Linked DNA regions of Homo sapiens: all the other regions are linked to region 3. Evidence: fine-mapped expression QTL. A gene starts in region 3. Each other region holds a variant in brackets. All regions are shown on one strand. Distances are from middle to middle.

Evidence for each region.
Region 1: its variant is fine-mapped to the expression of CLCN5 in liver (GTEx, PIP above 0.99).
Region 2: its variant is fine-mapped to the expression of CLCN5 in cerebellum (GTEx, PIP above 0.99).

What each region holds. Positions count from the first base shown.
Region 1 is chrX:50,471,757-50,482,769 of GRCh38, forward strand. No RefSeq gene overlaps it. Among named protein-coding and RNA genes, the nearest start is that of DGKK, 6.4 kb to the left of the region's middle. The variant C/A (reference allele first, on the strand shown) is at 5,654.
Region 2 is chrX:49,769,677-49,780,689 of GRCh38, forward strand. No RefSeq gene overlaps it. Among named protein-coding and RNA genes, the nearest start is that of PAGE4, 54 kb to the right of the region's middle. The variant T/C (reference allele first, on the strand shown) is at 5,404.
Region 3 is chrX:49,917,329-49,928,341 of GRCh38, forward strand. It overlaps CLCN5 (chloride voltage-gated channel 5), which reads left to right and starts at 5,268. Exons shown (of 15, transcript NM_001127898.4): 1 at 5,268-5,464; 2 at 6,079-6,154; 3 at 7,843-7,986. The coding sequence starts at 7,971. RefSeq lists a silencer at 5,530-5,579.

The sequences.
Region 1 (11,013 bases), 550 kb after region 3:
CCTCCTGAAGCAGTCTGACATTAGAGATGGGAGATTCTCTTGGGAAGAGAACGACTGATGCCTAGCGCAGCACCTTTCCCACCACATCGGAAGACTTTAGAAGCTCTTTCTGTTATAGTCACGTACACATACACACAAACCATCATCTTAGTCAGACCTAGACTTTAGACGCCAATATATTACCAATTGTAATTAAAATTTGAGAAGACTACCTGTTAAGCCACAGCTGGGTGGGGGGAGCGGACGGGGGAGAAATACCTGTAAACCTGATTTGAAATATGACAAGTGAATTTATCTCCCATACACATAATGCTGCAGTTGTGGGTAGCAGCCTTCTTTCTGCAGCCCCTTCTCTAGCCATCTACTCCCAGACCATATCCCCCACTATTCCCTCTTCTTTTGCCAACGGACACTGACCTAGCCAGAATTTTCTAGAATCTGCAACATCTTTCTGTTGCCTATACTATGTCTCAGCAATAAATAATACCATAAGAGCACAGTTTCACCTAAATCCCTCCAAAGACCAGAATCTCTGGTGAGGTCTGCATTTCCCAGATCCTCGCTGCAGCCTCACAGCCTAAGCCCACCTTTCCAGAGATGTGTTAACACTGCTTGGCAGCTACTAAGCTAGTGCAGGGACCGTCCTTAAACTCTGGGGATGGGAAGACCAGGAGAAGTGAGCCCTATCAATTCCCTCACGTGGCAGTCCTCCTTCCAGTAAATTCACCTTAGGAGCCCACTCTCTTCACCCTCCTTGGGCTTGTTCTCCTTTCCCCTATCCCACACTCAAGTAGCCAAGCCGCCTTTAACCCTAAGAGTTCAGGACTGAAATATACAGGTGCCAGATCTCATTATTGGATCTGGTGCATTAAAGTGCCAGATCTGACCAACCAGCAAGTCCAGGACTGGAGATCACTTTTCTGGCTCTCACACCTTAATGGAATCCCTGTCCTTAGAAGGGGCAGATATCCCACATTTAAATTTTGCTTTTTACTAAACCCAACATGTAGTTAGAAGGGCTGAAGGCTGAGCAGTCACAGAGTAAGATGGCCTCTTGGGTTACAGATGGCCTCTTGGGGTTTGGCATAGACAGTGTATTGTCAAGCGAGATACCACCAGGGGACAACTTGGAGTTACTGCTTTATGTATGTTTATTGAAACTCTTGTCTATAATTCTACACTCAATTATAATGAGGCCAACATTTATGATGTAGACTCTTGCTACAAGGTCATTTTGAGATTGAATGCTAAAATAGTTGCTTGTACATGGCTTTTGCTCCATTAGGGTAGGTTACTGGAGATATACTGCCTGAACTGCATTATGATTAGTTTTGAAGGTTTTAAAAAATTATTTTTCAGCCCATCATTAGCTACCTTATTGCCTCATATCATAGTAAGGGTTCTTTGTGTGTGTGTGTCGGGGGTTCCTTAGCCCAGCATTGAATACCATGCTTTACATTGGAGGCAGAGTAGAGGGATGGCCAGAATGGTTGATTGGTACCTGATTTGGGGAGGCACCTTTGCTGTAACTAAGCTACACCTTCCTCTTTCCCATAACCTGCTGGTTTCTTAATAAAGTTTTACTTAGATGCTTCTGTATTTTCCTCACAACCTAACCCAGGACTTGAGGTCATAGTCAGGATTCAGGAAATGTCTGTTAAGTGGATGATTCATTGTAGGTTACTGGTTAGGATGTATTTTTCTGCCTTGCTTTTCAGCACTATTTGATATTTCAAATGATTAATGATCTCCTAAGAGGCTCTCTTTTAATTAAACAATACAGATTTTTAAAAAGGCAAAGAGGTACATAAGAATTTCTTTAACCAGACATATCTGGAATGATGACCGTATCCACAGAGGCTTGGATGAACATAGTTCTGGATGTCCCAGGGCAGAAATGGTCCTTAGCCTGGGACTTTTGGGCATGTTATATAAGTTACCTGATTGGGCTGGATGAAGGATCGATCAGTACAATAGGCTCATATCTTTTGAATATGCAATGCACTACCTTACCCAACTGCCAGCATTTACTCTGATTCTACCCAGAATAAAGCTTATCCAAGCCAGCATGGAGCTCCTTCAATTTCAGCCGTGCTCAGAGTTCTGGAGAGGCAAAGGAGAGAAAAGCTGAGAAATGTGACAAAATTAAATCTCTTCTCCCTTCCTGTTTTCATTTCATTTTCATTATTGAATGAGAGAGTGGCACTGTATTGCTAGAGTGGAAGCCCTTCCCCCCTTGATCAGTAGCTTTAAATTCCCTAAGTCCTCCCTTTTAGAGCAATTTGGGAAGAAATCAGTGTCTCTCCCGAGTCTTAGCAGCTGCCAACCTCCCCTACTGTACTACCTCGGGATGTGCCAAGCCAAAATAGCAACCTTTATAATAATCTACTAAATAAAATAAGGAGATGGGATGAAGAACAGGCAGCATGTATGGAGAAGGTAGAGGATTCAGACTATTAATTTAGCTGGGATTAAAATGCAAACCTGTTAACCTTTACTCACTCTAGTCTCCTAGGATTAATTGATATAGGATTGGAGAGTTAAAAAGTTAATACCTTGCATTTGTATAATGCCTTTTTATTTCTAAAGTACTTTCACATATATTATCTCACTTCAGCCTCACAACAAATGTGTGAGGCAAGCAAATTCGGACTTCCATCACATACCCCTGTCCCCTACCCTTTAACAGATGAGAAAACACAAGTCCAGTGAGACTAAGTGCCATGTCTTAGGTCACAGAGATAATTAGTGGTGGAACAGACATTTAGAACTTGTGTCACTCAATTTCCAGCTGAGGGAGACCAGAGCACAATACTGAGGGCTGTGAGCTGGGGGCTGTGAGACAGGGTCTGTGTAAATCCTCTTCATAGCAGAGTGGGAAGGCTGCCTTAATGCCTTTTTCTTTCTTGAGCTTGTCAAAGGAGCAGAGGTTTCTCAGCTCTCACTCTTTCTGGACAGCAGTTAATGATCTGCAACCAAGCTCACTATAGGAGGTCCCTGTTTAGAGGAACATTTTTGAATATGTATGTAATATAATAATTCAACCAGGGTATACTCATTTTATTGGTTCTGTTTTTATGTTTTCTTGAAGTGAAGCACTCCACAGTTAAGCGGTATTTACTGCCAGTCTGTGGTGTATACAGCCCTATTAGGTGTCCTGGGGAAGGAGAAAGGGCAGAAATATTAGACGTGATCCTTCCCACAAGAATTATTAGAGCTTGGTGGTCAAGATAAGCCAAATACAGGTGAAAAGCAATCCAAACACAGATGCCAGTTTATGATCATGACACCACACTTTGTACTTTTCTGGGGGGCTGGGGGTGGGTGGGGACTAAGTGTGACAGAGCGGAAAGGAAATTGCAAGGGGAGTCAGGAAATCTGGCTTCATATTAAGGTTCTACCACTAAACTCTCAACATGACCTTATACAGATCATTTAATGTCTTTGGGCCTTAAGTTTTCTCGTATGAAAAATGGAGGTGGGAATAAAGTTGAGCTTGATCATCTAGCTCTAAAGTCTGTTTTAGCACGAAATATCAGCAATCCTGTGAGTGAATCACGGACAGCTTTTTGTAAGGGGACAGATCTTGAAATGGATCTTGAATGATGCAATTAACATAGATCAGCAAAGGGGAAGTGGAAAGGCATTGCAGACAAGGAGAGAAGCAAAGATAGAAATCTGGAGGTGAGAATGAGCCAGGCTGGTTGAGATAGAGGGAACATACCAACGACTGATGAGAGATGAGATTAGAGTGAAGCAAGTGGTAGGGAGAAAGCGGGATGTAAAAGGTTTTCAACATCAGATTGAAGAGTTGGAAGATTTGGTTTTAAAGGTAATGGGAGCAATGAAGGCTGTTTGAATATAGGTGTACATGGTAAAACTAACCAGTGAGGAAAAATTGTCCTTGACTGTGTATTTGGTTCTGGAAGCATCTACAAATCTGCTTTGTTTCCCTAGAGCTGATATCCAGTTGATTTGAGGTAATTTGTAAAATCATGATTCTTTCTTTATTTTTGCTGCAACCTCTAGCTTTGGGTCTGCATTGCCAAGGCTGCTGGCCCAACTGGCTTAACCACCTGCCTATACATTTGGATTTAGTCCATAATGGGTCATTTGGCTTCCATGGACTCAACATGCTAATGGGATTTCTAATTTAAAATTCTAACTGATGATGAATGACCAGGGGATGAGAGAAAGGTCTTTGTAGGTAAGCAGGAGTGGGATGGTTGTGGACCTCAAAGCAGATTCAGAGACTGAAAACAGTTTGAAGAAAGATAAGAAAAAAAATGAATCTTTGCAGAATCTTTAACTCACTGTGGCTTAGACATGGGGGAAAGCTGATGAGAAACAGCCATCCAGTCTAACCTGCCAAGGATCTAAACCCAGCTTGTATTAATAAGAGAAAACAGATTGCTCTAATGGCATAGAGAAAAAAGTGGTGGAAATTTTGGTGTGGCAGATCACAGGTGTGTGTGGGGGGATCTGAGGGAGGGAGTATAGAGCTGATAGTGTCCCTTAGGTGATGGTGTTTAGAAGGAGTGAAAAAGATTATTAGAACCCTCCTGGTGTGGTGTCAGTAATGGAGGCAGGCAGACATTTGTAATACTCAATCTCAGTATTTGAATATGTGTATGTGTGTGTGTCTTTATCCAAAAAGGAAAAAAGATAATGTTAGTAAGAATTGTCTCGCACAAAATTACTTTGTTACCTCACCACCCTCTACAAACGCTTTATGACTGACTTTAAGAGGGAAAGTGATGGATATAGGAGGGAGGAACGAATAGAGAAAGGAATTTAAGAAAAAGAGGTGTTGATAGGCAGAACTGCTGTGATGAAAAAGGTTGGGGAAGAAGGTGGCTTTCTTTTCCTCCAAAGAACTGCCAGCAGCCTTTCCAGCTGTCCCTTTTTCTCTTTCTTGTAGTTCTCCCTTACTGAGAGTTAGCTCAAAATGCAGAATTAATCAGTTCTGTCATAAGAAGGAATCTCAGGGGAGAGGCTTTACACAATTGAAGTGACTTGCAAGGACAAGGCGTCACAGAACTCAGTTGTCTTAGATGGAGATTAAAGCATTCAACAGTCATTTCCAGGACCTCCCTTCTATCATTCACCTTTTGGTTTTAAGTCCCCATGCTCTAGTTATGACCTTTAGGCATGGCCATTTCTGGAAGGGCCTATTCCCTTTAACCACACTTCATATGACAGAACTAGGCTCAGTTTCCCCCTTTCTCTTTCTCAGCTTCACTGGTCTCTGCAATAACAAGGCCCTTTCCCAACTGGGTCTCAGAACCTTAACGTGGCCCTGGGGCAAAACTGCAGCAGCCTGACACCCAGGGTTTCTAGGGATTGCATTATTCAGTCATCAATTCCACAAATAATTATTGAACATCTACTACATGCTTGGCACTCATTTGAATGCTGAGGATTCACCAAAAAACAAGACAGACATCATCCGTGCTCAAATAGCATTTATTGGCTAAGGGCTGGGGAAATACAGACATACATACATGAAGACGTTGTTTCAGAAAATAAGTGCAATAAAGAAAACAAAAACTGATGATGTGATAGAAAGTGCCTGGAGGGCTACTTTGGTCAGTCAATTTATTTACTCATTTGCTTAATCCTATAGCACATCCAAAATAGTTTGGAATTACTT[C/A]ACCAATGCTACTACCAACAACAAACCTACTAAATAAACTTCAAGATTTTTTTTCCACCAACTTCTGATTTGAAAACTTTTCAATCCTACAGAAAAGTTGCAAGAATAATACAGTGATCACTTACATATTCTTTACTGATTGCTAACACTTTATCACATTTACTTAATATCTATAACTCCATCTATTTATCTGCATATCTACCTCTTTATTTTTGGCTGAGCCACTTGAACGTTTGTTGCAGACATCATGACATGTCACACATAAGTATTTCAGCATGTATCTCATAAACAGCAAGGACATTCTCCTTCATACACAATACAATGATCACACTTATGAAATTTAACAATGATACATTAATATTATCTAGAATACAATGCATATTTGAATTTCTCAAATTGTCCAAATAATGCTCTGTATAGCTTTTTTTTTTTTGTAAATATAGGGTCAAATCATAGATTGCATTTAGTTCTGTGTCTTTAGTCTTCTTTAATCTAGATTACTCCCAGCTTTCATTTGTCTTTCATGACATTGACACTTTTGAAGAGTACAGAGCAGTTGTCTTTAGACTGGATTTCAGTTTCAATTTGGGTTTGCCTGATTGTTTCAGATTGGATTGTCATGAAAGGCTTCTCTGAAGAGGCAACTTTCAGTTGAGTCTTGTCAACAGGAGGAGGCAGCTGTGAAAATATCTGGGGAAAGGGATTCCAGGCAGAGGGAATGGCAAGTACAAATTCCTGGAGATGGAGACAGGCTTGTGTTTGAGGGAGAAAAAGCAGGCCAGAGTGACTGGAGCCTAGAGATCAAGGGGGAGAGTCCCATGAAATGAAATAAGATAGGCGGGATTCAGATCATGATGAAGCATATAAGTCATGGGAAAGAGAAGATTTTGTTCTAATTGCAATGGTAAGCCACTAAGGGTTTTATGTAATTTGGTGACATGATCTGATTTGAATTTGCTTTTAAAAATAGTTTTTACACCGCATGTTCTCACTCATAAGTGGGAGGTGAACAATGAGAACACATGGACACAGGGAGGGTAACAACACACACTGGGACCTGGGGTTAGGTGGCGGGAGGGAGAGCATCAGGATAAATAGCTAATGCATGCGGGGCTTAATACCTAGGTGATAGGTTGATCTGTGCAGCAAACCTCCATGGTACACGTTTATCTATGTAACAAACCTGCACGTCCTGCACGTGTATCCCAGAACTTAAAATAAATACAATAAAGTTGAAAAGAAAAAAGAAAAAATATAATAAAAAATTAAAAAATAAAAATAGTTTTTATTTTCTAAAGAATTTTGCTTTGTATGCAGTTTAAAGAAACAAATAGGTACTTGTCATAGCTGTCAACCTGCCCCCCTCTCCCATTATCTGCTCCCTAGAGGGAACTACTTGGAGCTCCTTTAGCTAAATAGCATGCTTGTAAAGCTAATTCATAATTTTTCAGATTAAAGCATTCTATGGAAGAGGAGAGTTTAGTTCATTATCACCATAAGCCCCCGTGCATGCACAAACACAGACTTCCCATTCCACCACTCTACCAGTACAGTTATGTCATAATTTTGACTAGATCAATATTCAGTGTTTACATTATTATGACTCTGGAAATGCTATTCACAGCTGAGTTACATAGCACACTAGGATTACTTTTCCTTTCTTGCACATCTGCTTGTTTTTAATGGAGCCGATAATTGTCTTGTTTATTCTCTTGCTTATTTTTCTACGTACTTAACATTAGCTCATCCACAACCTGTTCCCCAGTTGACTAAATATTCTCCCAATATGTGAAGATGCATTGGCTCTTCTGTCAGTCTCGTCTTCTGTGAGACATCTTTGAATTGCTCCAATATGGCCCAATTGCTCTCTAGATCTGTAGAGCACTCTCATCCCATGATATCCCTAATAATTTTGAAGATATTTCTTCATTGTTTTCTAGCTTCTAACTTTTGAGAAGCCTGAAACCATTTGGAATCCTGATCCCTTGTAATTTTTCTTTTCTGGAAGCCATTGGGTTCTTTGTTTTGTCCTTAGGATGCAACATCACATTGATCTCCCCTGGTGTGTGTCCATTTTCTTTCACTGTGTTGGGTATTCTGTGGACCCTTTCAATCTTAAAACTGTCTTTCAACTCTGGGAACTTTTGTTGAATTATTTATTTAATTTTGTTCTCTCCAGTTTTTCTGACCTTTTCCTCCCTGGAACTCATGTTATTCTTATGTTGGACTACCTGAATAATGTAATTTGCTTACATTTTTCTTATTCTTTCCATGTGCTTGTCTGTTTGCTCTACTTCTGGGCTGTTCCCTCAGCTTTATCTTTCATTGCTTCTGCAATACTGCAATGCAATTCTGACACTAACAGAGTTAGCAGAGACTCTACTGGTTAAGGGCACAGTCTCCAACAAACTGTTCTCACTTCAGATGCCAGCTACAAGTTCAGGGTTACCTGCACTTCTGACCAACTGGCTACCAACTTGGGTATTCCAATGAGCCCCTCAGGTTTGATGATTCCCTAGAATAACTCACAGAACTCAGAAAAGTACCATGTTTATGATTACAGTTTTATTATAAAAGATGCAAATCAGGACTAGCCAAATGAAGAGACCTACAGGATGAGGTCTAGGAGTGCCCTAATTGTGGAGCTTCCGTGTCCTCCCCTTGTGGAATCAGGATATGTCACCCCTGGCACATCAATATGTTTACTAACTAGGAAATTCACCTGAGCCTTGGTGTCCAGGGTTTTCACTGGGGTTTCATTATACAGGCATGACTGATTGAATCATTGATCATGTGATTGAATTCAGTCTCCATTCCCCCTTCTTCCCTCCCCAGAGGTCATCTTCGCCTGATATCATCTGGCACAAAGCCCCAACTCTCTAGTCACATGGTTGTTGGTCTTTTCAGCCTCACCAACCCCCATCCTGAAACTATCCAAGAGCCCACCCTAAGCCACCTCATTATCATAAATTCAGTCATGGGCCCAGAGGCCCATCATGAATAACAAAGACACTCTTATCACTCAAGAAATTTTAAGAGTTTAGAAGCTCTTTCCCAGGAAACTGAGACAAAGGTCCTGCAACAAAAACCAGACAAATTTTTCATTCTACAACATTTTCTAATAAGAAGTTCAAAGCAGGATTTTTTTAAAAAAAAAATTCAACTTTTATTTTAGATTCAGGAGGTACATGTGCAAGTTTGTTACATGGGTATATTGTGTGATGCCAAGGCTTGGAGTACAAATGATCCTGTCATCCAGGTAGTGAGCATAGTACCCAATAGTTTTTCAACCCTTGACTCCCTCCCTACCTCCTGCTAAGTAGTCCCCACTACTTATTGTTGCCATCTTTACGTCCATGAGAACCCAGTGTTTAGTTCCAACTTATAAGTGAGAACATGTGGTATTTGGTTTTCTGTTCCTGTGTTAATTTGCTCAGGATAATGGCCTCCAGCTAAAGCAGGAATTTTTCAGAGCAATTTTTTGCCCTCTGAGTATCCTTTTAAATATAATCTTGCTCTTTTTTGATAGATACAACATCTTATCTCTTTGAGTACAATAATGGTTATTAATTTTCATTTCTGTTTCTTTTAAGTTTTTGGTTTATTGGTTGGTTTAGGTTTCTATCTTTGATATTGGAGGCTTTCCTCAGATAGCTTGTCATCCTTGGCTGTTTGCTCATATTTATGAGTAGGTTCCTAAAAAGCTAATTAGAAGGTCAGAGTATTTAGTGAGACTTGTGTGAGTATATCAGTTTTCTACTGTGGCGTAACAAGTTACCACAAACGTAGTGGCTTAAAACAACACGCATTAATAATTTCATGGTTTCTGTGCATTAGGAGTTCAGGTCTGGGGTAGCTGAGTCCTCTTTCAAGAGTCTCCCCAGATTGTAATCAAGGTGTTGGTCAGGATGTAAACTCATCTGGAGTTTTGATTGGGGAAGAATTTGCTTCCAAGCTTAATCAGGCTGTTGGCAGAATTTATTTTCTAATGACCACACGACTGAGGGCCTCAGCTTTTTGCTAACTGTTGGCTGGAGGCTACCCTCAGGTCCTAGAGGCCATCCACAGCTCCTTAAGGAGATTGGCAGTTACTTGCCATGTAGGCTTCTGCAACATAGCCTCCCATTTCATCAAGCCCAGAGGAAGAGACATTAGCTTCTGTCTGCTAAAGCAGAGCCTTTTATAATGTAACTTAACTATGAGAGTGACATCCCATCACCTTTGCCATATTCTGTTAGGTTAGAAGCAAGTCACATTTCCCATCTCCATTCAAGAAGAGAGAAGTATATAAAGGCATGAGTACCAGGAGGTGGTATCCACTGGGGATTACCTTGGGTCTGTCTACCACAATGGGTTTCACTGCAAGGTGATCTGGCTGGGTCATTTCATTGGACAACCCTTTATATCAACATCTTTAGGGTTTTTTTTCTTTTTCTTTATTATTATTTTTTTCTGAGGTTGTTCACATTTCCACAGAAGGATATTCCAGCCTGGAGGTTGTAAGCCTGACTGTCAGCATTCTAAGAACTAAGTGGGGCCAGGCACGGTGGCTCAGGCCTGTAATCCTAGCACTTTGGGAGGCCGAAGCAGGCAGATCATGGGGTCAGGAGTTTGAGACCACCCTGGCCAACATAGTGAAACCCCGTCTCTACTAAATATACAAGAAAAAAAAAATTAGCTGGGCGTGGTGGTGTGCACCTGTAATCCCAGCTACTCAAGAGGGTTGAGGCAGGAGAATCGCGTGAACCCAGGAGGTGGAGGTTTCAATGAGCCGAGACGGCATCATTGCACTCCAGCCCAGGTAACAGTGCAAGACAACATCTCAAAAAAAAAAAAAAAAGTACTAAGTGGGATAAGAGGCTAAGAGTATCAACAATCAATATATAAACTTCTGAATGTCCTTGTTTTCCATATGGTACTTCTTCCTCAACTGTGCTTCCGCAGTCCAGAGACCCTCTGTTTTACTCTCTCTAGAGAATAAACCTCACATCTGATGGGAGTTGGGGCAGAGACAATCACACAACCGTGAGGAGTTGTGGGGGAGATCTTAGGATCCAACTGGTTAATAAGAATTTCAACCAATACTCTTGTTTTTAGACTTACTTTCACCTCCACTTCCAGAAGTACTGGTACTGCCAATTTTTGAGCCTTTTGGAGGTTCTTTATTGTGAATTGTGTTGGTTGTCAATTTTCCCCAATGCCAGTTTTGGATTCAGTTTCTGCAGGTCGGCTGTCAGTTACCCTTGTATGTCTATTTTCTAGCTTTAAATATTGCATTGTTGTCTTCTCTCCCCAAATTACTGTCATTTTAATGAGGGTTGGCAGCGAAGTGGAGGTAAATACACGTGTTCAAATTGTCA
Region 2 (11,013 bases), 150 kb before region 3:
ATTAAATTTTAACTTTTGGGATACATGTGCAGGATGTGCAGGTTTGTTACATTGGTAAACAAGTGCCATGGTGGTTTGCTGCACCTATAAACCCATCACCTAGGTATTAAGTCCAGCATGCTTTAGCTATTTTTCTTGATGCTCTCCCTTTCTCCATCCCCCTACAGGCCCTGGTGTGTGTTGTTCCCCTCCCTGTGTCCATGCGTTCTCATTTTTCAGCTCCCACTTATGAATGAGAACATGCAGCTTTTGGTTTTCTGTTCCTGTGTTAGTTTGCTGAGGAAAATGGCTTCCAGCTCCATCCATATCCCACAAAGGACATGATCTCATTCCTTTTTATGGCTGCGTAGTATTCTATGGTGTATATGTACCACCATGGTACATTTTTTAAATCCAGTCTATCATTGATGGGCATTTGGGTTGATTCCATGTCTTTGCTATTGTGAATAGTGCTGCAATGAACATATGTGTGCATGTATCTTTGTAATATTGTAATATCATAAAGATTATAATAGTAGACTGATTTATATTCCTTTGGGTATATACCAAAGGAATTTCATTACTGGGTCAAATGGTATTTCTGATTCTAGGTCTTTGAGAAATCACCACGCTGTCTTTCACAATGGTTGAACTAATTTACATTCCCACCAACAGTGTAAAAGCATTCTTATTTCTCCACAGCCTCGCCAGTATCTGTGGTTTCTTGACTTTTTAATAATCACCATTCTGACTGGTGTGTGATGGTATCTCATTGTGGTTTTGATTTGTATTTCACTAATGATCAGTGATGTTGAGCTTTTTTTCATATGTTTGTTGGACCCATAAGTGTCTTCTTTTGAGAAGTGGCTGTTCATATCTTTTGCCCACTTTTGAATGGGGTTGTTTTTTTCTTATAAATTTGTTTAAGTTCCTTGTACATTCTGGATATTAGACCTTTGTCAGATGGATAGATTGCAAAAATTTTCTTCCATTCTGTAGGCTGTCTGTTCACTTTGATGATAGTTTCTTTTCCTATGCAGAAGCTCTTTAGTTTAATTAGATCCCATTTGTCAATTTTTGCTTTTGTTGCAATTGCTTTTGATGTTTTTGTCATGAAATCTTTGCCTCTGTTTATGTCCTCAATAGTATTGCCTAGATTTTCTTCTAGGGTTTTTATAGTTTGGGGTAGTACTACATTTTCTTTATCCATTCTTCTGTTGATGGACATTTAAGTTGGTTCCAAATTTTGGCTACTGTGAACAGTGCTGCAACAAACATAGGAATGCTGATATCTTTTTGATATACTGATTTCTTTTCTTTTAGGTATATACCCAGCAGTGGGATTGCTGGATCATATGGTAGCTCTATTTTTAGTTTTTCCAGGAACATCTAAACTGTTCTCCATAGTGGTTGTACTAGTTTATAATCCCACCAACAGTGTGCAAAGGTTCCCTTTTCTCCACGTCCTTGCCAGCATTTGTTATTGTCTGTCTTTTGGCTATAAGCCATTTTAACTGGGGTGAGATGATATTTCATTGTAGTTTTCATTTGCAGTTCTCTGATGACCAATGATGTTGGCACCTTTTCATACGCCTGCTTGCCATTTGTGTCTTCTTTTGAGAAATGCCTATTCAAATCTTTTGGCATATTTTGGTTGGATTAGTATATTTTTTCCTATAGACTTGTTTGAGCTCCTTATATATTCTGGTTATTAATTCCCTGTCAGATGGGTAGTTTGCAAATATTTTCCCCCATTCTGTGGGTTGTCTCTTCACTTTGTTGATTGTTTCCTTTGCTGTGCAGAAGCTTAACTTGATGTGATCCCATTTGTCTATTTTTGCTTTGGGGGTATTACTGTGCTTGTGGGGTATTACTCAAGAAATCTGTGCCCAGACCAATGTCCTGGAGATTTCCCCCCAATATTTTCTTGTAGTAGTTTTATAGTTTGAGGTCTTAGATTTAAATATTTAATCTATTTTGATTTGATTTTTGTATATGGCGAGAGACACGGGTCGAGTTTATTCTTCTGCCTATGGATATCCAGTTTTCCCAGCACCATTTATTGAAGACTGTCTTTTCTTGGCACCTTTGTCAAAAATTAGTTAGTTGTAGGTGTGTGGATTTGTTTCTGGGTTCTGTATGCTGTTCCTTGGGCTATGCATCTGTTTCTATGCCAGTACTATGGTGTTTTGGTTACTATAGCTCTGTAGTATAATTTGAAGTCAGGTAATACGATTCCTCCAGTTTTGTTCTTTTTGCTTAGGATAGCTTTGGCTATTCTGGGTCTTTTGTGGTTCTATATAAATTTCAGGGTTGTTTTTTCTATTTTTGTTAACAATGTCATTGGTATTTTGACAGGGATTGCATTAAATCTGTAGATTGCTTTGGGTAGTATGGACATTTTTGCAATGTTTATTCCTCCATTCCATGAACATGGAATATCTTTACATTTTGTGATGTCCTATTCAATTTCTTTCATCAGTGCTTTATAGTTTTCATTGTTGAGATCTTTCACTTCTTTGATTAAGTTAATTTCTCAATATTTAATTTTATTTGTGGCTATGGTGAATGGGATTACTTTCTTCATGTCTTTTTCAGATTGTTCACTGTTGGCATATATAAGTGCTACTGATTTTTGTTATTTATTTACTAGTTATTTTGTGGTCTTCTCTTTCTTCTTTCTTTCCTATCTTTCTTTTAATGAAGTTGACTTTCTCTGATGATGTGATTTAATTTCTTGCTTTTTTTGTATCTGTTGTATGTTTTCTTATTTGAGGTTACCATGAGGCTTGCAAATACTATGTTATAACCCATTATTTTAAAAGATGACAACTTAACACTGATTGCATAAACAAAGAAACAAACATGCAAAAAGAAAAGTAATAAAAACTCTACACTTAAGCTTTGTTCCCCTACTTTTTAAACTTTTTGTTGTTTCTCTTATGTCTTACTGTCCTGTCGATGTCTTGAAAAGTTGTTGTAGTTATTATTTTTGATTGGTTCATTTAGTCTTTCTACTTATTGTAAGAGCAGTTTATGCATTACAATTACAGGGTTATAATATTCTATGTTTTTCTGTATGTTTACTATTACCAGTGAGTTTTGTACCTTCAGATGATTTCTTCTTGTTCAATTAACATCATTTTCTTTCAGATGAAAGAACTCCCTTTAGCGTTTCTTGTAGGCACAGGTCTGGTGTTGATGAAATTCCTCAGCTTTTGTTTGTCTGGGAAGGTCTTTATTTTTCTTTCATAGTTGATGGATATTTTTGCTGCATATACTAGTCTAGGGTAAAAGTTTTTTTCCTTCAGCACTTTAAATATATTATGCCATTCTCTCCTGGCCTGTAAGGTTTCCACTGAAAAGTCTGCTGCCAGATGTATTGGAGCTCTATTGTATGTTATTTGTTTCTTTTCTCCTGCTGCTTTTAGATCCCTTTTTTATCCTTGACCTTTGGGAGTTTGATTAGTAAATGCCTTGAGGTAGTGTTCTTTGGGTTAAATTTGCTTGGTGTTTTATAACCTTCTTGTACTTGAATGTTGATATCTTTCTCTAGGTTTGGGAAGTTCTCTGATATCCCTTTGAATATACTTTCTACCCCATCTCTTTCTCTATCTCCTCCTTAAGGACAGTAACTGTTAGATTTGCCCTCTCGAAGCTGTTTTCTACATCTCTTAGGTGTGATGCATTCTTTTAATTCTTTTTTCTTTTGGTCGCCTCTGACTGTGTATTTTGAAATAGGCTATCTTCTATCTTCAAGCTCACTAATTCTTTCTTCTGCTTTATCAATTCTGCTGTTAAGAGACCCTGATGCATTCTTCGGTATATCAGTTGCATTTTTCAACTCCAGAATTTCTACTTGATTGTTTTTAATTATTTCAATCCCTTTGTTCAATTTATCTGATAGCATTCTGAATTCCTTCTGTGTTATCTTGAATTTCTGCAAAATAGCTATTTTGAATTCTCTGTCTGAAAGGTCACATATTTCTGTTTCTCCAGGATTGGTCCCTAGCACCTTATTTAGTTCACTTGGTGAGGTCATGTTTTCCTTTGTGGTCTTGATGCTTGTTGATGTTTGTCAGTGTCTGGGCATTGAAGAGGTAGATATTTATTGTATTCTTCACAATATGGGCTTATTTGTGCCCATCCTTCTTGGGAAGGCTTTCCAGGTTTTCAAAGGGACTTGGACCCCAAGCCCAATAACACTGTGGGTTTGTCAGACTCATAGAGGTACCACTTTGGTGGTCATAGGTAAAATCCAGAATAATTCTGTGGATTACCAGGCAGAGTTACTTGTACTCTTTCCTTACTTTCTCCCAAACAAATGGAGTCTCTCTTTTTGTGCTGAGCCGCCTGGTACTGGGGGTATGGTGATGTAAGCACCCCTGTGGCCACCACCACTGGGACTGCACTGGGTCTGACCTGAAGCCAACACAGCACTGGGTCTTGCCCAAGGCTTGCTGTAACCACTACTTGGCTACCACCTATGTTTACTCAAGGCCCTAGGGCTCTATGATCAACAGGTGGTGAAGCCAGCCAAGTTTTGTGTTCTTTCCTTCAGGGTGGTGAGCTGCCCCTGGCCCTGGGTGGGTCCAGATATGCTATCTGAGAGCCAAGGATTAGAGTCAATAATATTAGACATTTACTTGATGTTTTCTTCTACTGTGGCTAAGCTGGCACTCAAACCACAATACGAAGTCCTTCCCACTCTTCCCTCCTCCTTCCACAGGCAGAGGAGCCTCTCCCTGTGGCTACCAACACCATAGCCCACAGGGGTTTCTGCCAGGCCATGCTGATGTGCACCTAAAGTGCAAGGGCCAAGGACTCTTCATTCAGCTTGTGGTGAACTCTGGGAGGCCTGAGACTTACTTTCAGGACAGTGGGCTCCCCTCTGGCCCAGGGCAAGATCTGGAAATGCTGTCCAAGAGCCTAGGCCTGGATTCTGGGACCCCAAGAGCCTGCTTGTTGCTCTACCCCCCAATGTGGCCGAGCTGCTACCTAAGGGGCAAGACAAAGTCCCCTTTACTTTTCCCTCTGCTTTTCTCAAGTAGAAGTCTTTCACCATAGCCACCACAACTTGAATATACTGGTTCACACTGGAAGCCAGCATGTCTCAGAGTCTCAGCCAAGGTCCATTGTGTACTACCTGGGTATTGCTGCTGGTTATTCAGGGCCCAAAGGCTCTCTAGACAGCAGGTGATGAATCCTGCCAGAACTGGGTTCTTCTCTTCAAGGCAGCAGGTTCCCTTCTGGCCCAAGGTGGGTCTAGAAATGTCATCCGGAAGCTAAGGCCTAGAATGGGGGACTCACAACTCTGCCTGGTGCCCTCTCTTACTGTGGCAGAGCTGATATCCAAGAGGTAAGACAAAGTCCTCTTTACCCTTTGCTCTCCTCTCCTTAAGCCAAAGGAAGGAGTCATCTTTG[T/C]TGCTGTGAGCTGCACTTCCTGGGGTTGGAGGAGAGATGGCACAAGCACTCCTTTAGCTGCCCTGGCTGGTGTTTCTCTAGGTCACAGGCCACCCTAGTCCACTGACACTAAACCCAGCCTAGCACTGGGAGTTGCCTAGGAGTTGCAGTCCTTGTATCCTAGACTGCCTTTCAAGTCTACCTAGAACCCCAGAACACTTTGACCCACCGCAGTGAGGCTTGCCAAGAAACTAATGTCTTGACCACTGAGATGAACCATTCCCCTCTGGCTAGGGCTGGCCCAAATGCTCCCTCTGTTCATGGGTGCTGGCTGAGCCCAGCATGGCTTTGCTCTCTACTGTGACAAGGTGGCACTGAGTTCAATGTAAAGTCCCCCAGTTGCTGCACTCTCCCTCCCGCAAGTTCACAGATTCTCTCTTCACACAGCATGACTGCTGCTGGGGGATGGAAGAGAGGTGGTGTCAGAGACTCAAGACTGTCCATCCTACCCTCTTCAATGCCTGTTTCAGCAATATGAAGTTAAAGCCAGGTACTGTGATTGCTCACCTGATTTTTGGTTCTTGTGAAGGTAATTTTGTGTGCAGATAGTTGTTAAATTTTGGTGTTCCTGTCGTGGGGAGAGATGAATGGTGGAGGCTTCTATTCTGCCATATTGTTCTACTCTCCTAGATTAGATGGTTTTTTTTTTTGTTTGTTTGTTTTTTTAGACAGAGTCTCGCTCTCTCGCCCAGGCTAGAGTGCAGTGGCATGATCTCAGCTCACTGCAACCTCTGGCAACCTCTGCCTCACGGATTCAATTGATTCTCATGCCTCAGCCTCCTAAGCAGCTGGGATTACAGGCGCCCACCACCATGCCTGGCTAACTTTTGTATTTTTAGTAGACACAGGGTTTCATCATGTTGGCCAGGCTGGTCTCGCACTCCTGACCTCAAGTGATCCGATCACCTCGGCCTCCCAAGGTGCTGGGATTACAGGAGTGAGCCACTGTGCCTGGCCCTAGATGAGTTTTTAATTAGTCTTATTCCACCTCCTCCTCCTTCTTTTACTACAAATATGTACTACTTTCCTCCTCCTCCTCCTCGTCCTCCTCCTCCTCCTCCTTCTTCTTCTTCTCCTGGACAAAATGGTGAAAATAAAGTTTTCCTTCACTTTGTGAAATCTCGTTCTTTTTCCACTCTATCCAGTATGTCCCCACTTCCAGTCCAATTCTCCACATGGTTTCAGATATTCAGCTCCAACTCTTAGGCACATCTGGTTCATAATCCAAGTCACAGATTCATCACCTGTCAGCCATTGTGGTACCTCCAAACTTTGCCAACTACTCCCAGTACTCATTGCTATTGGCTAAAAGAAGGGGACATAGTTGTGTGAGGCAATCTCCATTCGTCCATGAATAAAACAGAACATGGTTTGTGCTGATGGAGGAAGGGGGGTCAGTTGTTTTTATCTTTGCATGGGAGAGATTACACTCTGCATTATGATGAAGTGATTCATGTGTCCTAAGTAAAGTGGCGTGCTTTTAGAGGGACGCGGAATGGCCAACATCTGGCATTCCTGCCAGCAGCCTCCATGGCTATTCCCTTGGAGAACATGACAAGTCTGTTAACAGCATTCTTTCCAGCTGATCCCTAATGCAACCCCAGAATCTTGACCCAGGAATCCTGGGCACAATGCTTTGTTCTAGCACCTCAAAATATGATCTTAGCATCAGACAGGAGCTTATTAAAGATGCAAATTCTCAGGCCCCACTCTAAATTTACTGAATCTGAATTTGGCCTCACTTTCAGGAATTCTTGGTCTCTTTACAAGCTGTGGCAGATAATTACCTAAATATAACCCAATCACCCACTCATTTCACGGAGTGGTTTGTGGTCAGTTTGCATTAAATCATCTGGGATATTTATTACAAAAGTTGATTCGTAGGTTCTTCCTGAGAACCTAGGATAATGCCAGGAATCTATATTTTTGACAAATGTCCTGGAGTATTATTCTTAAATGTAAACTGATGTGGTGGGATTCTAAGTAAACATGGCTGTTTCTCTGGAATGCAATACACTCATTCTAACACACAAGGTAGACAGGGTGGGGTGAGGCAGTGGTTTCCCTAGGTGTATGTTGAAAAAACTCTTGGAGCCGGGTGCGGTGGCTCATGCCTGTAATCCCAGCACTTTGGGAGGCCAAGGTGGGCAGATCACTTAAGGTCAGGAGTTTGAGATCAGCCTGGCCAACACGGTGAAATCCTGTCTCTACTAAAAATACAAAAATTAGCCAGGCATGGTGGCATGCACCTGTAAACTCGGGAGGCAGGAGAATGGCTTGAACCCAGGAGGCAGAAGTTGCAGTGAGCTGAGATGGTGCCACTCTTCTCCAGCCTGGGTGACAGAGCTAGATTCCGTCTCAAAAAAAAAAAAAAAGAAAAAGAAAAAAAGAAAAGAAAAAAAAGACATAAAAGAAAAAGCTCTTGGTCTCTCTGAAGTCAGGCCAAGGCATAAATTATCTAGTGCATGAATGTGGAAAATACAGGCTGTGGAGTCATACACCATTTACTAGGTGAATGTAATTTTGTTGAGCCATAACTATAACATTATGATAATTATGCCTGGCCTGTCATAGGGAGTATTCTGGCAAGTTTCTGGTGCATAGTAGGAACTCAAGCTTTTTTGTCTATTGATGTGTACTAGTATTTCCATTTATTCATCATTTTGAATATACAATCAATAACACAAATAATTAAATAATAGTTAATATTGAGTGTTAATTATACACCAGGCACTACATGAAGCATTTAATATACATTATCTCATTTATTCTTTACAAAAACTCTACCAGGGTGGTATTATTATTCTCTTCATTTGACAGAAAAAGAGAACTGAGATGTGGGGTGCAGCCAAATGCTCCTAAGGTCGCTAAGCCTAGACTCTTTCAAGCGTATTTGGCACCATGCTAGCTTGGTGAAGGTTGAAATGATGTAAGAGACAAGGTCTTGGAAAAAATCTTTTTATAATCTTGAAGGAAAGCAAGCCCATGCAAACAAATAACCAAGATGAAGACATACCCAGAACTTCCAAGGGGTACACATGGAACATCATAGACTTTCAGAGGAAGAAGAGGCCACTTTCAAGTTCAATGGTCAGGGCAGATTTCATGAAGAAAGTGCTCTTAAATGTAACATTGGAAGATATATAGGGTCCTGGTAGAAAGGGATTGAATGACTTACCACATGGAAAGTATAAAGCTCTTAAATAGAGGGCTGGACATGGTGGCTCACGCCTGTAATCCCAGTACTTTGGGAGGCCGAGGCGGGCGGATCACGAAGTCAGTAGATCGAGACCATCCTAGCTAAAATGGTGAAACTCTGTCTCTACTAAAATACAAAAAATTAGCCAGGCGTGGTGACAGGCGTCTGTAGTCCCAGCTACTCGGGAGGTTGAGGCAGGAGAATGGCGTGAACCCGGGAGGCAGAGCTTGCAGTGAGCCGAGATTGTGCCACTGCACTCCAGCCTAGGTGACAGTGCGAGACTTTGTCAACAACAACAACAAAAAAAGAATGCTTGTGATTTTTGCACATTGATTTTGTATCCTGAGACTTTGCTGAAGGTGCTTATCAGCTTAAGGAGATTTTGGGCTGAGACGTTGGGGTTTTCTAGATATACAATCATGTCGTCTGCAAACAGGGACAATTTGACTTCCTCTTTTCCTAATTGAATACCCTTTATTTCCTTCTCCTGCCTAATTGCCCTGGCCAGAACTTCCAACACTATGTTGAATAGGAGTGGTGAGAGAGGGTATCCCTGTCTTGTGCCAGTTTTCAAAGGGAATGCTTCCAGTTTTTGCCCATTCAGTATGATATTGGCTGTGGGTTTGTCATAGATAGCTCTTATTATTTTGAGATACGTCCCATCGTACCTAATTTCTTGAGAGTTTTTAGCATGAAGGGCTGTTGAATTTTGTCAAAGGCCTTTTCTGCATCTATTGAGATAATCATGTGGTTTTTGTTTGGTTCTGTTTATATGCTGGATTACATTTATTGATTTGCATATATTGAACCAGCCTTGCATCCCAGGGATGAAGCCCACTTGATCATGGTGGATAAGCTTTTTGATGTGCTGCTGGATTCGGTTTGCCAGTATTTTATTGAGGATTTTTGCATCAATGTTCATCAAGGATATTGGTCTAAAATTCTCTTTTTTGGCTGTGTCTCTGCCAGGCTTTGGTATCAGGATGATGCTGGCCTCATAAAATGAGTTAGGGAGGATTCCCTCTTTTTCTATTGATTGGAATAGTTTCAGAAGGAATGGTACCAGTTCCTCCTTGTGCCTCTGGCAGAATTCGGCTGTGAATCCATCTGGTCCTGGACTCTTTTTCGTTGGTAAGCTATTGATTATTGCCACAATTTCAGATCCTGTTATTGGTCTATTCAGAGATTCAACTTCTTCCTGGTTTAGTCTTGGGAGAGTGTATGTGTCGAGGAATTTATCCATTTCTTCTAGATTTTCTAGTCTATTTGCATAGAGGTGTTTGTAGTATTCTCTGTTGGTAGTTTGTATTTCTGCAAAATCAATGTGCAAATATAACAAGCATTCTTATACACCAATAACAGACAAACAGAGAGCCAAATCATGAGTGAACTCCCATTCACAATTGCTTCAAAGAGAATAAAATACTTAGGAATCCAACTTACAAGGGAAGTGAAGGACCTCTTCAAGGAGAACTACAAACCACTGCTCAATGAAATAAAAGAGGATACAAAGAAATGGAAGAACATTCCATGCTCGTGGGTAGGAAGAATCAATATCGTGAAAATGGTCATACTGCCCAAGGTAATTTATAGATTCAATGCTATCCCCATCAAGCTACCAATGACTTTCTTCACAGAATTGGAAAAAACTACTTTCAAGTTGATATGGAACCAAAAAAGAGCCCGCATCGCCAAGTCAATTCTAAGCCAAAAGAGCAAAGCTGGAGGCATCACGCTACCTGACTTCAAACTATACTACAAGGCTACAGTAAGCGAAACAGCATGGTACTGGTACCAAAACAGAGATATAGATCAATGGAACAGAACAGAGCCCTCAGAAATTACGCCACATATCTACAACTATCTGATCTTTGACAAACCTGAGAAAAACAAGAAATGGGGAAAGGATTCCCTATTTAATAAATGGTGCTGGGAAAACTGGCTAGCCGTATGTAGAAAGCTGAAACCTGATCCCTTCCTTACACCTTATACAAAAATTCATTCAAGATAGATTAAAGACTTAAACGTTAGACCTAAAACCATAAAAACCCTAGAAGAAAACCTAGGCAATACCATTCAGGATATAGGCATGGGCAAGGACTTCATGTCTAAAACACCAAGAGCAATGGCAACAAAAGCCAAAATTGACAAATGGGATCGAATTAAACTGAAGAGCTTCTGCACAGCAAAAGAAACTACCATCAGAGTGAACAGGCAACCCACAAAATGGGAGAAAATTTTTGCAACCTACTCATCTGACAAAGGGCTAATATCCAGAATCTACAATGAACTCAAACAAATTTACAAGAAAAAAACAAACAACCCCATCAAAAAGCGGGCAAAGGATATGAACAGACACTTCTCGAAAGAAG
Region 3 (11,013 bases):
AAAAAGTAAAATTTCTCATGAAGGTCACTTGTCAAAAATTATCCTTCAATCAAACACTATTCTTGTTTTTCTATATTACTTTTAAAGATATATAATTGAATGGGTAATACACATCCATGGCACAAAATTGAGAAGGTGCATAGCTCTACATCCACATACTGTATTGTAGAGAATTTTGCATATAAGTACATAAAAAAGTTTTCTCATTTTTTTTTTTTGAGATGAGGTCTCACTTTGTTGCTCAGGAAGGAGTGCAGTGGTGCAATCAAGGCTCACTGCAGCTTTGAACTCCCAGATTCAAGTGATCCTCCCATCTCAGCTTCCTGAGTAACTGGGACCACAGGTGTGATGCCACACCTGACTAATGTTTGTATTATTTCTAGAGACAAGTTCTCACTACGTTGCCCAGGCTGGTCTTGAACCCCTGGGCTCAAGCGATCCTCCCACCTTGGCCTCCCAAAGTGCTGTGACTATTGGTGTGAGCCACTGCATCCGGCCTTTCATTCTTTTTCTTTTTTTTTTTTCCATTGGAGAGATGCACCATTATTTATTTGATCAGTCCCCTATTGAGGGACATCTGGTTGCTTCCCAGTTTTTATTATTACAAACAATGCTACAGTGAATAACCTCGTTCATATAACATTTTACACCCATGCAAACATAACTGAAGGAAATATTTCTGGAAATTAAATTTTGGGATCAAAGTCTCATATATTCTTAATTTTTATAGTTATTGCAAAATTGCCCTCAATTGACTAATTGCACTCCCACCAACAATTTATGAGAGGACTTACCCTCCCACCCCTGCTTTGTCAACACAGTGTATTATTATTACTACTATCATTATTATTATTATTTGAAGCAGTCTCATTCTGTCGCCCAGGCTGGAGTGCAGTGGTGCGATCTTGGCTCACTGCCACCTCCGCCTCCTGGGTTCAGGTGATTCTCCTGCCTCAGCCACCGGAGTAGCTAGGATTATAGGCATGCACCACCACACCCACCTAATTTTTGTATTTTCAGTAGAGATAGGGTTTCTTCATGTTGGCCAGGCTGGCTTCAAAATCCTGGGCTCAAGTGATCTGCCCACCTTGGCCTCCCAAAGTGCTGGGATTACAGGCATGAGCCACTGTGCCCGGCCAACACAATCTATTATAAATATTTAAAACTTTGCCAGTGGTATCTCATGGTAGCTTTCATTAGCATTTCTCCAGTTATGAGGTTGGCTATCCATTTTTGGTATAGAAGCCATTTGTTAATTTTGATACCCTGCTCTCCAGGCACAGGGCAATTACAAATGACTTCAGATCACTTTATCATCAGCATTTCCTAACCTACTGTTTTGATAGATCCCCTGAGCTAGAGAACTTTGTTCATTTTCTTTTATTCTGCCCCATTTTTTGTTCTAGAACTATCCCAGGCATTTCTTAGGCACTCGGGAAATTTTACTTTAAAATCAGTATTTCTAGCGGCTAGCACAATGGCTAGCATAATAGTAAGGGCTCAAAAAATGTGAAACAAATAAATAAGAACCATACAAGAAACATTCACTTACCACTCTACATGGCTACGTACTCATCTAACTGTCTCTATTTGCAATGCCAATTTTAAAATGAAAGTTAAAGCTGCATTTAGACATGATAGTTTAGATGTCACTGTGGTCTATTGTTCTAAAGCTTTTTCTTTTGCAATATTAAGTCTGAAGTGCTACCTTTTGTTATACAGAGAAATTCCGTTTTTTTTTAATAAGCTTTAAGATCACAATGTATTTACTCTTTGCTCTGTAAGACCTGAAATGGCTCTTGACCTGTTAACAGTTTGTTGACCATCATGGGAGGTGGGGTGGGAACATCTTTTCAATTTTGTCCAGGGTAGGGGGAGGAGAGCAGAGGACTCATTATGTTGATCTATCTTCACTCTCTTGGCCAAACCCACTCACTTCCATGGGCACAAACACATGGGACACCTGGCTGGATTTCTGTAGAGAGTGGTCTGAGCCATGGGAAAGAAAACAAGTTAACAGTCAGAATCTGTACCTCTTGATTGAACTGTTAATTTTGCCACATTAGCACCACACTCTCACCACTTCGCTTGGGAAGGTATTGTACAGACATTTATACTCACCACACAAATAGCTTCCGAAAAACTTGGGGATCCAAAGGCTGAAGGAGCCTTGTTCATTATCATCATTATCATTATCAATAGTAATACAAGCTAGCATTTATTGAGTGCTTAATCTGTTCTAACTGTTCTACACCTGTTAATACATTTACTCCTATTATCCCATTTTATAGGTAAGAAACCCGAAACAGTGAAGTTAGATAACTTGAACAAGGTGACACAGCTAGTAAGCGTCTGAGTATGGTTGGCTTTGAGCCCAGGCAGTCTGGCTCTGGAGCTCACTCTGTTTTGTTTTGCAATTCGCAAAAGATAAAATGTTCTTTTTTTGAAATGCACATTTTTTGGGGGGAGGGGGAGATTTCGTCCCCCAACTGGAGCCCTCCAAGCTGTCATCGGTCAGTGGCGACACCAAGTGGTAAACTGGGTGTACTGCAGCCCTTTTATAACTCCCAATTCCCCCCAATTCCTTGCTCCCTCCCAACCCCTCCTACTCGCTCCCCAGCTCTCCCAAATAAACCTGTATGTACTTTAAGTAAAGCCAATATGTTTGCTCTGCAGAGGCAGTTTCGTGACATGTCTCCTTCCAACCAGACTGCCATCCTTCAAACCGTTTTTTCCTGTATCAGAGGAAGAGGTGTCCGAGGTTAGTTTGTGTTTTGAATCTCATTTCTCGCCTCTCAATTATTTTACTCCATTAGTTATCCCCTCCTTTTCTTGACTCTTTTGTGTGTGTATGTGAGACAGAGTTTCGCTCTTGTTTCCCAGGCTGGAGTGCCGTGGTGCGATCTCGGCTCACTGCAAATTCTGCCTCCTGGGTTCAAGTTATTCTCCTGCCTCAGCCTCCTGAGTAGCTGGGATTACAGGCGCCAGCCACCATGCCTAGCCATGTATTTTTAGTAGAGATGGGGTTTCATCATGTTGGCCAGGCTGGTCTCGAACTCCTGACCTCAAGTGATCCACCTGCCTTGGCCTCCCAAAGTGCTGGGATTACAGGCGTGAGCCACTGCACCCGGCCTCTTGCCTCTTTATTATTGATTTCACCAGTAGTTTTTCTGCTCGACCTACATATAAGCTCCAGTTTCTTCTACTTCAATGACAAAAAAAAAAATCAAGCAAACAATCAAACCTTTCCTTGAACAATTACTCTAGATTCACCTTTTAAAAGATGAATTCCAAAAGAGGATTGCCTTGCTCAGAAACCTCAATTCTTTCTCAGTCACTTTTTGAATTAGGTATAAATCTTAGTCCAATATTCAGGATGCTCCAAAATTGGGCCCCAATTTACCTTCTGGGTATTATCTTCCACAATTCCCCTGTACTTCCTTACCCTAAACTTCAACCACATAGGACTACTCACGGGTCCTCACATATAACTTCCTGCCTGCTCACCTTTGCCAACGGTGTTACCTCCACTTGGATTTACCTTTATTAGAGGCCTGTACTGATATTTTCTAGTTATTTGTGGCTATCCCATACACCATGAGTGCCTGAAGGAAGGGACTGAATGTTACCAGCTCAGAAAGCAAAAAAATTTTGGACTGAAAAAATAAAAATCCGGCCATTCATCAGGCCGGAATAACACACAGATAAAACCAGATGCAAATTTAACAGAGAACAATATTTCTTTGGCGGACATATTGCAGCTGTAAAGTGGTAACGATGTTTTTATTTCAGTGACCACCACTTTTTTATTCACTGAGAGACTTTGTTCTCTAAAATCGTAGATTATCAGAAACTTTTCTGCTTGAAATCGTATCAGTAAGAATGAAACATCCCACATGCATCTGGAGGACATAAGTTTCTTTGACACAGAGAAGCAGCCTCAATTTCCAACCCAGGTGCAGAGCTTCAGATAAGGGGTATCTGGACACAACATTCCACATCTATCTTTATTTTGTGGTTCCCAAGGAAACACAACTCTGGGTTCACTTTGCAGTTCAGACCTGATGGTGACCCCAAATGACAGTACTGCTTTGCTTTGAGCTTACCAAAAACACTGCTTTGTTTAAAATTCACCTAAACTCCACTCTTCTCTCCAATCCTATAATGACTCCATGTTTTTCTGTTTGATGAAATGCCTACCGTGTGCAGTCTCTCATATTGCAATGGGTCAAAGCCTGACTATGTCGGATTACAAATTTGTCCCCGGTAGCCTTATGCTGATTGGGCTAGGATAGGGGTTTTTAAATCCCTGACCACTTAGCTTGTCCAAAGTAGGCATTCCAAATTGTTCACTGCAGTAGAGTACCCTGGTTCTAGTTAGATTACTTGGATTATATGGATTCCAGTCTCAGGTCTGCCAAGAACTAATTAGCTGGATCATCTTAAGTGAGTCAGTGCACCCCATTTGGCCTAAGTTTTCTCTTCTGCAAAACGGTGTGCTGTTTCTTTCAAACCTAGGGTAAGGGCTTTGGAGTAAGTTAGACCTAGGTTGGATTCCCAGTTCTACCACGTACTAGTCCTGTGACTTCAGCTTTTCTGAGCCTCTGTTTTGTAATGATTAATATGGAGATAATACAGTACTAACAACTGCAGTATAGTTTTTGCAGCGTTGCTGGAAACATCAAGTTGGCTGTTAAAAGTATCACTACGTTTGATCACTATTCCTATTCCTACTATTATATGAGTTTAGACAAGTTACTTAACCTTTCTGTGCCTGTGTATTTTTATGAGTAAAAATGGAGAAATAACCCTCGGGGTTATTGTGAACACCAAATGAGACGAAAAAAGTAAAGGGGTTAGGAGAGTGCCTGGCACATAAGAAGCAGCTCAAATTATGTGATCTAATGTTATTAGTATTAGATTTCTACTACTAATTACTCTGTGGGCCGAAAGCTCAGGATAGACAGTTTCATTCTAAGGACAAACCTTCTCCCCAGCAAAAAAAGGCACTGCAAGCTGGAAATAGTGAAACACAATGGGGCATTGCGTTTTCAAAGGCAACTGACACGCCCAGCACTGGGATAGGACCCGCCCGCCCAGTCCTCATTAAATATGGCAGCGAGCGGGGCCGACGTACTGCGGCTGCGCAAGTTGAAACTCCTCCTGGCAGCTCCTCCCCGGCGGGCCTCCCCTCATCTCGGCTGGGTAGAGGTGCCGGGTGTGAGCTCGGCGTGGCGCGCACGCGCAGACGCTGGCTGGGCTGAGCCGATACTCGCGAGGCGCCCTGTCACATGAGCCGCGCGCCCGCTTCGCTCCCCCTCCTCCCCGGCTGGGCTGTGTGAATGAAGCTCTGCCGGCTACGTGGGGCGCTCACTCAACTTGGTGTCCTGGACGCCAGAGCCGACCGAGCGCGCTGCCCACCGGCGGCGGACACGGGCTCCGCCGCTCCGGACCTCGGCGACAGGTAAAGGCAAACGGGCTGTCCCTTCCCCAACAGGTCCTTGGCGGGCCGCTGGCCCCCGGCCCACCCCCGGAGCACCCCCTAAGCGCAGCGACACAGGGGAAGCGCAATCCCGCTGGCTTGGACCCCCGGAGATGGGGCTTCCCCGCGCCCGGCGTTGGCAGCCCGGCGCTTAGAGGAGGTAGACAGGCTAGTTCCAGCCAGTGCTGAGCGGCGTCTTCCCGGGAGCCCAGCCCTGTTCTCCGAGTTATGGTCCCTGGGTTGCCCGAGCGAAGTTTCCTTGCGGAGCGGCGCCAAGCCCGCCCCGCTTTTGAATCGGAGTGTTTAGCCGCCTGCGTCCCCTTTCCCGGACTGGGGTAGGGTGACTTAGGCTGGCAAAGCTCAGCCGAGGCCCGGCTCTTCTCCCTCCGGCTCTGGACTTGCCGCTGGTTTTGTATGGGTCTTAGCAAAGTGGAGAAACTCTCGGAAAAGTAGTTGCTGCGCTGTTTTCCTTTTGCCACTTAACGCGCGTAGCTGGTTCTCTCCAGACTTTCGAGCCTTGCTCTTGAGCGCCTTGATCCACACGGGAAAAGCTTTGCCTTTACATTGACGCACGTTTCCTTTGATTAACATTTCAGAGCAAATCAGTTGCCTGGAGTTCCCAGTGAAGTTGTACCTGTGCCCGTGCGATAACGTCAGTGGAAGCTGCCCCGAGTAAGTGAGGGAAATCTAGAAGTTTGGAGCATAAAAAACCAGCACGAATCAACTTTACATAAACTTCATACATTTATTAGCAACTGCTCGGGTTTAACTTCAGGGATGTTAAATTTCGCCTAGTCCCACGGGACGATGATCATTACTTCTTAACTGCACGCGAAATAGGAGAAGAAAAAAGGCAAATCAAAACAGACTGTCCCAGGTCTCAGAGAAGTCATCGGAGCGCTTTTTCCTGCTGAATTCACCCTAGGAGTTTGTGAGTTCCTAGTTTTCTTGGACTTCGCGAACTTTTCCTTGTCCAAAGCACTGTCTTTTCTCTGTTGGTGTTTTGGGACTGGTGTACACATTAACCCTTTTGTCATTAAAGAAGGCCAACACGATTCTCAAGCTAGTATTAGCCTTCAGTGTTTGTGCTTTAGCACTTTCACTTAGGAGGTGGAGGTGTTGGTTGTATAAAAGATATGGAAATAACAATCTACTTTGATGTTCACCAGGTCAAAAAGGTGAAGACTTTTAGAAAAAACAGATTGGCTTGTATGCTAAGTAGGGAAGACCAGTTTATTAACTGAGATCTTGTTTAAATGGGCAAGCAGAGTGTTAAGCCTCTAAGTCAAACTAAGTCGTCAGACCTCTCATTTTTTCTCCCATTCCTAGCTCCTATTTTTTTTTTTTTTTTTGGTTTGAGCCGGCTCTCGTTCTGTCGCCCAGGCTGGAGTGCAGTGGCACAATCTTGGCTCACTGCAACCTCCGCCTCCCTCCCGGGTTCAAGCGATTCTCCTGCCTCAGCCTTCCGAGTAGCTGGGATTACAGGCGTCACTTGTAATTATAGTGCACCGCCATACCTGGCTAATTTTTGTATTTTTAGTAGAGACGGGGTTTCACCATGTTGGCCAGGCTGGTCTCGAACTGACCTCAGGTGATCCGCCTGCTTCGGCCTCCCAAAGTGCTGGGATTACACCGCACCCGGCCCCTAACTCCTTTAATATCTTTGCAAATATTGTCCTAGGACTGGATTTGAAGTTTTAACAACAGGAATTAGCTGAATTAATTTGGTTTTCTTTAAACTGGTATTCCATTTTTACATTTTTCTTCTTCTTTGGTTCATTTTCCCCCTGATTATAAAAGCAATATACGCTCACTATAGGAAATTTGCAAAGGGTGGGAAAGTATAATGACACAAGGAGAGAGAACTACTACTCAAAGGGTATCATCACTCTTCACTTTTTATTCCGCTTCCTTTTTTTTCCCCTATACAAGATCTGTTTCCAAACTTTATTCATAAACTTTCCTCTCCTTCTACTGATTTTTAAATGTAAAGTTGGGTATTTTGGGGGTTGGTTAGGGCACTGGATATTAATGTTGCTCTTCAGTCTCCAAAGCATGAAACTTCAAGGTAGGAAAGGTGCTTAACGGTGATTTCATCCAGCAACTCATCAACTGAGACTCAGACCTCATTTACTGAAGCTCTAATGATTCATGCAGAAATGTATAGCACTGAGTGGCAACATTAACTCACTCCAGATCTCTCTCTCTTCAGAGATACCTTGCTGCTTAGAGGGAAACTTGACACTACCCATGCCTGCATATCTTTGAAAGAGAGGTTCAGAGAGGAGCAGGAGATAATTTTCAAGCATTTGAAGTGTATAGTTTCTTTTAGGTATTCATTTTTCTGTTTACATTTTCAGGTTTGGGGCTTTAGCCCCTTGGAGAAAACAGGGCCACATAGCTGCCTTTCTATCAAGTCTCCCTACAAAACTGAGAGGCTCTGGGAAACTCAGCCTGTGACCCCAGCGTGGGTGAAGATAGGATCAAGATGGCCATGTGGCAGGGTAAGAAATTAGCACTTATTCTTCTAACTGGTTTTTCCTCCTACTCTATTCTCTACCCTCACCCAACCGTTCCCCACCCAGCCAATGGCAGGCAGCCAGCTGTTCTTTAATTTAACCCTTTGTCTTTGCAGGGACAAAACACATTAGTTTAAAAAGAAGCTGCTGCTAGCTATAAGTTTAAATTATTTAAAAGTGGGGTTGTAGGAGAAGTAGGAAAATGCCATGCCAGCAGCATTTAAAAGAACTCCCTTCATTTAAATAAGTGATCATTGGGGGTTATATGCCAGGAGACAGGATATTTTTTCCCATTTGTGTTTTTCATTTGTTTCTGGCAAATTTCTATCATAAGATTCCCCACCATAAGGTTGGGGAGACAGATGTCACTGCCTCTCCAGCTTCATCTTCCCAATAAAAACTTTGTGATGTATGCAGTTTGAAAGAGCATATTTAATGTTACAGTGTTTATATTTGATACAATATAAACATTGAGAAGGAAAACGCCTGTTTTAATAATATGAACTACCTGAGAGCAAAGCTCAGTAGTATCTTAGCTGATGTATTACATCTCTCATGAACTTGTGAATTCCTACCACATACAAAGTTATGTTTTATTTTGAGCGGAGTTGCGGTTTGTGCCCTTTGGAGGGTTTAGGAGTCTCCACGGGTATGTGGGATTTTTATTGTTATCAAAAGTGAGTGTGGGTTTAAGAAATGATAGACAAACACTACCAAAATTGGCCTGTGACCCACAAAAAGTTAAAGACCACTTAAATGGAGTGGAATGAAATAGCTTGAATATCTAGAAATATTCAGCAGGTTGGTTAGTTGGTGGTCTAATGTATCTTTTAAAAATGTTTCATTGTGTTGGTTGTGACTTTATGTAGGCACACAAATGTAACAAGTAGTTTCCATGTATAAAGATTATCAATGAGAAGACATTTATGGAAACGGGATTTGGCCTGTATGCTTCCTTTGACTCACACAATGGGCATTTATCAAGAGCAGTTTGGATATTCTTGCTTAAATCCTGAGACATTATTTCATTCAACAAACGAAATACAGAGATGAATAAGTTGCAGGATGCTAGAAGATTCCTTGTCATCTAAAGACAGACATACAAACAAATAATTTTGCCATGTTGAATAAGTGTTAGAATAGAGAGGTACAAAAAGCAAGGGAAGCCCCGAGAAAAGCTTGATGAAGTCTGAGTTTTGAGCTGGTCTAAAAAAATGAGTAGGAGCAAATGAGAGAATTGCATTCTGGGCAGACAGAGCAGCACTGTTTGGGAAGTTCCAAGTTGCTCTGTTTGCCTCATGTGAGATGTGTAGGGGCGCGACCTCAGATGAAGCAGGGAAGGTAGTTGGAGGCCAGATAATAAAGAGCCTTGTATGTTCTAGGAAGGATTTTACACTTTATCCTGAAGACAAAGATTCTAAACAGGGAAGTAACATAATCAGATTTTGTTTTAGAAAGATTACTTTGGCAGCAGTGCTGAGCTGGAAATGATGAAAACTGGGAGTCAGTCAGGAGGTTTCTGGAATAGTTTAGGGGAGAGATGGTAAGGGTCTGAGCAGAAGCAGGGGCAGTAAGGTTAGAATGGGATTCTAGAATGTTCTGTGACTGGATGTGGCAAGAAATGGGCCTGGATTAACTACCAGCTTGGGTGCCTGGGGGCCACTGGTGCCATTCTCTGAGATGGGGAGCATGGGAGGCAGCTGATGGGCATGGGGGTGGTGCACTGGATTTGGATGACCTGTTTGGGTTGAGACACCTATGTACTGTCAGGTCAATGTTTCAAAGACAGTTTTGAAAGTACAGAACTGATATTGGCACAGATGGGGATCTAAAGTTTTGTTCCTAATGATGCATAAAGAGCTTGTATTTTTTTCTCTGTAGTTAATGGAAATGTCATTACTAGTTAATGATTTATTTTACAATAAAAACATTTTAATGTTTAACAACTCTTAATCAAAATGTCATATTTTCATAGTAAATAATGTATTTTGCAAGCCCAGGCCCTGAAATCAGATGTGCTTAAAATTACATTGAAGTGAAACCTCATTTTTCCAGCATTAGTGAAGAGGGGAGTATTCTATATAAGTAAGCTCTTTGGATAACTGCAGCTTATCCTTTGTTTTGGCTAACCTCTGAAGTAACCAGCAAAGTACGATGATAGTTTGGAAGCAGTGTGGTATGATAGTTAAATGTGTGGGTCTGAGTTCTACTCCATTGGTTCTGTCACTTGGTAGCTACGAGGCCTTGGGCAAGTAACTTAATCTCTCTGTGTGGAAGTTTTCTCCTTTACAAAATGGAGATAGTAATATAACTCATCCCATTGCTGAGTATATAGCCAAAAGAAAGGAAATCAGTATTGAAGAGAGAGCTGCACTCCCATGTATATTGCAGCACTACTCACAATAGCCAAGATAGGAAATCAACTTAAGTGTCCATCACTGGATGAATGGATAAAAAACATGTGTTACATATATTCAACAAAATATTATTCAGCCATAAAAAGAATGAAATCCTGTCATTTGCAGCAACATGGATGGAACTGGAAGTCATTATGTTAAGTAAAATAAGCCAGGCACAGAAAGATAAATACTGCATATTCTCACTCATATGTGGGAGTTAAAAAATGTGGATCTCATGAAGGTAGAAAGTCGAATGGTGGTTTCCAGAGGCTGGGAAGGGAAGGAGTTTGGGGAATGAAGAGAAGTGGGTTAATGGTTATAAACATACAGCTAGAGAGAAGGAAAAAGTTTTAGTATTCAATAGTACAGTAGGGAGACTACAGTTAACAATAATTATATATTTCAAAATGGCTTGAAGTAAAAAATTGGAATGTTTCTAACACAAAGAAAAGATAAATGTTAGAGGTGATGAATATCCCAGTTACCCTGATTTGATCATTACACATTGTATACGTGTATCAAAATATCACATATACCCCCCAAATATGTACAGCTATTATATATCAATTTTTGAAAAGGGAGAAAAGTAGAACACCTGATAGGCTTGGTGTGA